Homo sapiens: one gene and its partner. The protein of the gene in region 1 interacts with the protein of each later gene in a pairwise test. Each region holds a gene or a part of one and is shown in the gene's direction. Other genes may lie near its edges. The genes, in order: FCRL4 and ZNF76.

The links.
Region 2: the proteins of FCRL4 (region 1) and ZNF76 interact in binary tests that used the Homo sapiens proteins (3 or more experiments, as listed by UniProt).

The regions. Positions count from the first base shown.
Region 1 is NC_000001.11:157,594,956-157,599,442, reverse strand, and holds the start of FCRL4 (Fc receptor-like protein 4 precursor), read left to right. Parts: upstream 1-1,357; 5' UTR 1,358-1,498; coding exon 1,499-1,529; intron 1,530-3,094; coding exon 3,095-3,115; intron 3,116-4,487. UniProt on the Homo sapiens protein: May function as an inhibitor of the B-cell receptor signaling. May function in the B-cell-mediated immune response.
Region 2 is NC_000006.12:35,283,735-35,287,234, forward strand, and holds part of ZNF76 (zinc finger protein 76), read left to right. Parts: intron 1-2,391; exon of another isoform or gene 2,392-2,393; coding exon 2,394-2,474; intron 2,475-2,587; coding exon 2,588-2,665; intron 2,666-2,696; exon of another isoform or gene 2,697-3,240; coding exon of another isoform or gene 3,241-3,256; intron 3,257-3,500. UniProt on the Homo sapiens protein: May be involved in transcriptional regulation.

The DNA.
Region 1 (4,487 bases):
GATGGTCACGATAACTGCCTTCCATCTTAGTGCATGCTCATCTCTCAGTCCTAGAATGATATTCTTTCAGCTTGGATGTTACTTCCTCAGGGAAGCCTCTTATGCATCCCCAGAACTGGGTCAGATTTCCCTCTTAGTGGACTCTCAGAAATTACATACAATTCACTTCTATGTAATTTCCTGTTGACTTGCTGTCTTCTCCACCAGAATGAAAGCTTTCCAAGTCTTGATTAACACTGTACTTCCAGCACCTGGCACCATACCTGAAGCACCATGGTGTTTCTTTTTTTTTGCCATTAACATTTTATATATATATATATATATATATATATATATATATATATATATACACATACATATACACAAGATAATAGCATAAAAAAGTTTTAAAGAGTTATACATACCAAAATATTATACGTACCAAAAAACGTCACTACGGATTTTTCCATTTTTTTCTTAATTTTTTTTTTAAGTTCTGGGATACATGAGCAGAGTGTGCAGGTTTGTTATGGGTAGGGAGAGCATTAGGTGTTTCTCAAAACACCAAACAGCATGTTGCCCAGTGTGAAAGAATCCAAATGGCAAAAATCAAAATTTAATAGAATTATTTAAATACCCACTCTGACTTCCTGACGTGAATCGCTTCTCAAGGCTAAAGCCATCATATTTTCAGAACTCTCTAGCCTCTTGTCTTTCAAGGAAATCACAACTTCTTCTCTCTGCCACCAGATACCAGGCATATGTATTTCAATCAATATATATTTGCCAAGACATTCCTGTAGCAAATTTTGGATTCTAGGACATTAAGTAAAAATGTTATGGCCTATTATCTAGGAAGAGCATGATGGGGCTATAATTTACTCCTCAGCTTGCCTTCTACTCAGATCAAAAGTTGTGGTTTCCCCCTGGACTGATGAGTCAGGATATTTTCATATATATCAGACAAGGTGAGAGTTGTCTTGTGATTGAGATGTTTCATCAGGTCTACAGACGGCCTGCTGGAGGTGTTCCAGTAGAGGTATCAGCGGTCAGAGGAGGCCTTTTCTGTGTTGAATGAGAAATTCTTCATCTCTGGGGATATTCAGGGACATCCTTAGATTATGTGGATTTCAATAGGCCTGCAATCTCACCTCATCTCTAGTAGCAGAGAGAATAGGTTGTGATTTCCTTGAAAGACAGAGCCTAGAGAGTTCTGAAACTAGAGTAGCTTTAGCCTTGAGAAGTGATTCACCCCAGGATGTCACAGCAGTACTTAATTCTATTAAATTTTGATTTTTGTGGTCTGGATTCTCTCACACTGGTCCACATTGCTGTTTGGTGTTTTCAGAAAGATTCCTCTACTTCCCCCTTTCACTTCATTATCTCAATCAGCTTTATGCAGAGAAGAAGCTTACTGAGCTCACTGCTGGTGCTGGTGTAGGCAAGTGCTGCTTTGGCAATCTGGGCTGACCTGGCTTGTCTCCTCAGAACTCCTTCTCCAATCCTGGAGCAGGCTTCCATGCTGCTGTGGGCGTCCTTGCTGGCCTTTGGTAAGTGATGGGGAGGAGACCTTTGCTTGCTGCAAAGCTGAGCCTCACCATGAGCAAAAGCCCTCTTTTCTGCTGCTGCAATCATGGATTTTTACTCCCATTTTAGAACAGCAGAAAATGAACAAAAAGGAAAGATAATGATTTACTGGTAGAAGGGGAAAATGATAATAATTGATTTCCAAAGATGTATTTCTCATCTATTTTTGCTATGAATTGCCTATGGAAAATCATTTTACCCCCAAATGGACTTATTTTGTTTATGCAAAAAGAAACCTATGGCTAGGTTCAGTCCCTACGTCACAGAGCATGAGGACCCAGAGGAAAAGATGGACTGAGTTATTTGTGAAGGATAAAGTCCTGATTGTGAACTCAGGTAGAAAGGATCACCTGCTGAGAATAGTTATTTCCTTCTCTGTATTCTAAGTTCAAACCTGTTCTGATGTTTGCAAAGAGCATGAGAAGAGAAGAGATAAGATGATTTCCCTTTGATTTTTTTCTTCCTGCTTTTGTACCACTTGTCAGTGTTTGTCCAAATGAGGCACGGATTTCCTAGTTGCTCAAACTAGGGAATTAAAGAACAGTCAGTCTTTTGTTCATTAAATATTTATTAAGCGTATTTGTCTAGTTCCCACCTGATCCCCAGACCCCAACTAAGGGAAGACCTATTAGTGTGATTGGCACATGATAGGAACTAAGGAGTGAGTGGATGGGTATACTTGGCATGCCACACTGCTGGGCACCACAGAGGATGCAGAGACCTGAAGGACACAGATTCTGCCCTCAAGAGGTGACATTCTCAATAGAACCTCAACGTACACATGCAAGAACATCTGACTCGACAATATGAGAAAAATATTACACAAATAGTTACAGGATAATGTGTGAGGATGTCAGTTAATTTGTGCTAAGCCCTGGCTACATCCCACTTTTCTAAGGGCACCCCATGTATAAATGTATCCAATTCTCTAACATTTGATCAGGTGGAACTTTTATAACTCCCATTTACAAATGAGGAAATGAAGGCACAAAGATGTTGGTCTTGTCCCTGAGGTTTATGCAGCTAGTACAGTGGCAGAGTCAGGATTCGAACCCATAATCTAACTTTGGAAACTAGGCTTTTAACTACTACCCTCTACTGTCTGTCTCATTTTGAGTTCCAAATTAGCTATGATAATAAGTGTTCTGAGTCAAGAGAAGAGGAATCAGCAGCAGCCCCATACTAAAAAATTAATGACAGCAGCCATTAATTGAAACCTTACTGATCTAACTCATTACAGTATTACTATGAGGTCGCTTTCATGAGCCTCATTTTTCAAATGAGAAAACTGAGACTTGAAAGTTCATGTGGTTTGCCCTGGGTCATACAGCTAAAATTCAAACCAGACTGTCTGAGTCCACAGCCTGAGCGTCTGGCCACTGTGTTTCCCCGCTTCCCTGGGATGGATGGAATGGAACGTGTTTCTCTTCCTCTTGGTTGGAAGTAGCATATGAGTGTATGGGCTCTCAGGGTGAATAGTTCGGGACTCTTCGCCTACGCTGATGGCTGGCTCTTTACTCTCTTTCAGCTCCAGTCTGTGGACAATCTGGTAAGTCCTTATTTTCTTTGCTCCTTTATGTCTCTAGATACCCTAATAACTATATTTTATCTCAAATACTTACAAGAGTCCCTGTTGTCCATTTCATCCTTTTCCTGAGTGCTGCAGGGATGTAGAGACATCAGCTCGTGTGGTGACTCTGACCCTAAGAACCAGGCTATTTGGGGGTGACTCTCTTAAACCAAAACTGCCATTGTGCTGGCTAAACATGGCAGGGCCTGGGATATGTGTCACAGCGTCCACAGGAAGAGGAGCTGTCACCCCGCCTGATGTGGGATTCTAGCCAAGCCTGATGGAATGCATAGCATCCCAAGAGGAAAAGGGTAGAAATAAGCCAATACTTCAGAGGGGGAGGCTGGGGCTCCAGCAGCTTTTCCACTAACCATGTGTAACAAATTTATCCCCAACTTCTGCATCCCATGGAGACACACTTCTCTGTTAATAGCTCAAATTATGATGACTCTGAGTCTCCATCTATCCTACTGGTCAGCAAAAAGTCCCATCCTCTATAGGCAGCTGCCTCACAGGTGTTTTGGCCATTCCTATAGAGCACCCTAGGAGCTGCTGGAGCCAGCAAGGGCCTTGGCCCCCTTGAGGTGCACTGTCTCTTGCAGCTCCTAACTCTGCTGTTCTTCCCCTCCTCGGTGCCTTGGACACAGACTATTTCCCACACACCCTTCCTGAGACAAGATTATAACTTGGCAGACTTTGCTAATGGTTCTAGAATGGGGAAATGAAATACAAAAAGTGCCTTGAATTAACTGCAGCTAGGGATGTGGTTAACCTCAGAGCCCATCAACTCAGTCTCAAACACACGAAGGCCATGAAAAGTTATGTCCCTTCCTGGCCATAGGGCCACCTGCACATAGCAGGGGCAGCTTCCTCAGAGCAAAGAAGAGTCTAGTTGCATACATCAAAGGAAATCAACTCTCCTTCCCTCCAGTAGAAGACCTATTGCCTAAGTCCCAATGGCCCTGCATCCAGGTGCTTCCCAGGAATATAGCTGGTAGGGTTTTCTATTCTCTTCAGCAGAAACACAGCCCCATTCCCACTGATGACATAGAGTATTCTGTCCAAACCTTTAAAGACAGAATTTTCTTTTTAAAAAGTGTCTGCAGAGGCTGGGCACAGTGGCTCATGCCTGTAATCCCAGCACTTCGGGAGGCTGAGGTGGGTGGATCACTTGACGTCAGGAGCTCAAGACCAGCCTGGACAACATGGTGAAACCTCATCTCTACTGAAAATACAAAAAATTAGCCGGTTGTGGTGGCACATGCCTGTAATCCCAGTTACTCAGGAGGCTGGGGCAGGAGAATCACTTGAACCCAGGAGGTGGAGGTTGCAATGAGCTGAGATCAGGCCA
Region 2 (3,500 bases), on another chromosome or scaffold:
CAGAACCCCAAGTACTGATGCCCTTGCCAGGACAGATAAATTGTTAAAATGAGGGTAGCCTACTGCTCTGTGGGTGGGAGGGAAGAAAATGGGTTCATCTTCCCCCCATCTCAGCTGCCTTTCCTATTTCTTACCTTTATCTCCACCTTACCTGCCTTTGGTTAGTTGTAGGACTGTTAGTTACTGACCCCAAGAAGACTCAGTTTGGGAGCAAGTTTGGGGATTCCTCTAAAGGGGAGACGTCAGCAGAGACTTGGGCTGGAAGTAACTGTCTTTCCCACCTGAGCGCTCAGTTTCCTAAACCTCAATCTTCTAAGGAAAGGACAAATCACTTGTCATTAACTTTTTTTTTATTTTTTCTTCCTTTTTTTTTTTGAGACGGAGTCTCACCCTGTAGCCCAGGCTGGAGTGCAGTGGCGTGATCTCGGCTCACTGCAACCTTCGCCTCCCGGGTTCAAGCGATTCTCCTGCCTCAGCCTCCCGAGTAGCTGGGACTATAGGCATGTGCCATCACGCCTGGTTAATTTTTTTGTATTTTTAGTAGAGACACGGTTTCATGATGTTGGCTAGACTGGTCTCGAACTCCCGACCTCAGGTTATCCGCCTGCCTCAGCCTCCCAAAGTGCTGGGATTATAAGTGTGAGCCACCACACCCAGCCTTACTTTTTTGTTTTTTCTTTTTGAGACAGGACCTCACTCTGTCACCCAGGCTAGAGTGCAGTGGTACAATCTCAGCTCACTGCAACCTCCGCCTCCCGGGTTCAAGTGATTCTCCTGCCTCAGCCTTCCGAGTAGCTGGGACGACAGGTACCTGCCTCCACACCCAGCTAATTTTTTTGTATTTTTAGTAGAGACAGGGTTTCACCATGTTGGTTAGGCTGGTCTCAAACTCCTGACCTCAGGTGATCTGCTCGCCTTGGCCTCCCAAAGTGCTGGGATTACAGATGTAAGCCACCGTGCCCAGCCTTTTTATTTATTTATTTTTTATTTTTTTCAGACAGGGTCTTACTCTGTCACCCAGGCTGGACTGCAGTGGCATAATCACGGCTTACTGCAACTTCTGCCTCCTGGGCTCAAGCAATCCTCCCACCTCAGCCTCCCGAGTAACTGGGACCACAGGCATGCACTACTACATCCAGTTAATTTTTGTGTTTTTTGTAGAGACAGGGTTTTGTCACATAGCTCAGGCTGGTCTCAAACTCCTGAGCTCAAGCGATCCACCCGCCTTGGCCTCCCAAAGTGTTGGGATTATAGGCATGAGCCACCGAATCTGACCATCATTAACTCTTCAATCTCCCTTTCTTTCCTTTCTCATTTCTCTTCTTCCTTCCCCCTCTGTCAGACTCACTGGACACAAGGAAGGGTCGTCTAGTTCTAATTTCAAGAGCCTTATTAGAAGTGCTTTCCAGTAAGGTAAAGGAAGAGTAATATCTTAGGAAATCTGGAGGCTTGTTAATTTTTATGCTGCTTGTTGTGTTGCCTTAGGTGATCTAATTTTTTACTAGAAAATTGAAATGAAAAATGAGAGGTCAATGAAGGAACATTACTCAACAGTGGCAGTGGAATAAGACCTTCATGGACACATAATAGCATAATAGTTGTGCTCACATAGTTCTCTATTGCTTTACTTTCCATTTCTTCTAAAATGCATATTGGGCTTATAATAAAAGCTAGGATTTATTGAGGGCTGACCATATATACCTGGCACTCTTCCCAGTTTTTTATATTCGTTAACTCATTTAACCCTAACAGCAACCCTATAAGAGACACAGTTTTCAATCCCCATTTTAAGAAAAGGAAACTGAGGCACAGAGAGGTTAGTTAAATAAGCTGTCCAAGGTCACACAGCTGTTAAGAGGTAGAGCTGGAATTCAAACTCTGGAGGCCTGGCCTGGTTCCAGAGTCTATTGTTTTTAACCATTAAGCTATATATCCTGCCTTCACAGGGGCTCCTGGTCTTAGCACACTGTCATAGTGAGGGATGAGGGGATATGTTTTGATTTTGTTAGTTTGAGCTATATCTGAATTTTGACCCACTGGGGCTCATCCAGGTTTAAGGGCCATTAGTTCAAGTCTCAGCAACTTACTATTAGGTTGGAAGTTTCCACTTGGCTGGGCATGGGTAGAATAATAAGTGAAGTTATTCCTCCTGTTAGTAACTGGAAGGGAATCTGTTGGGAGGTGATGGGTTCGGCAAGGCAAGTGTCTTCACCCTTAGTGTCTCAAGGCCCAGGCCCAGGGAGACAGAGCAAGGGAACAAGGAAGATGTTACCCATGCTTAGACCTGCAGGCTCGTGCCTAGAGACTCAAATAAGCCTCAGCTAAAAACAGGCAGGCGTTTCTTAGCCCTCTTCTGGTCCTGGCCCATTTCTCTCTATTTCCACTCTTAACAGGAGAGAAGCTTCTTGAAGGGCAGGTGATCCAGCTCGAGGATGGGACCACCGCATACATTCACCAGGTGACGGTACAGAAAGGTGAGGGCACCCCAACACACCATGCCTTGTCGAGGGAAGCCTGACAGCCCCCACCAAGGGACCCCTCCATGGCACTGAGCTCCAGGGAAAGGCAGGCATTGCTCTCGTTACAGAAGCTCTCTCCTTTGAGGATGGTCAGCCTGTGCAGCTGGAAGATGGCAGCATGGCTTACATACACCGCACACCCAGAGGTAGGGTCACCATCATCACAACTCGGGGAAGGATGGGAGGCAGGACTGGAGGATGGGGTGGCAGGACTGGAGGATGGGATGGCACACAACTGGGGTGTAGACATGGGAGCTGTCATCTCCATGGTACACACATGCTCACCTGGATTAGCAGCCTTGCCCACCTTCCCTGGTGCAGACCACAGGAGCAGCTATGTCTGCAACTGGGAGGTGAGCCTTGGAGATCAGTGACGTGGACTTTGATGGTGGCCTTGGCTCCAGCACAGCCACAAAGTCTTAGGGCTTTAAATAGGACCCGAGGATATCATCCAAGACCAGGAAAAAAAACTAATATTTTAGAATGAAGCTCCTAAGGTGCTGAAGAATAACAATTTATTCCTTCCGCAGGTGGTTTCTTGAGTGACTGTTGCATGCCTGGCGTTGTGTTAGGTGTGCAGTATACAAGACAGAACAAAGTCAGACACAGTCCCCGCTCTCCTAGAGTCTAGAGGGGGAAACAGAAGTGAAACAAGCCATCAGTGATGAACTGATCATTACAAACAGAGATCAGGCTCAGGGAGGGCTTCTCTGAGGTAGTGATGCTTGAGCTGAGAGGTAAAGAATGAGGTAGACTTAGCTGGGGGAAGAGGGATGGCAGGGAGGGTTCAGTACTTCAGGCAGAAGGAATAGCATGTGCAGGCCTAGAGCTGGGGGGAAGAAAGAACAGCACATTCCAGGAACTGCTAGGAGCTAGAGCCCTGGGAGTGAAGGCAGAATGAGCAGGAGGAAACTGGAGAGAGAAAGACAGGGCTGGTGCACTCTGGGTTTGAGTGTCAGGGTGAGGATTTTGGTCTTTATC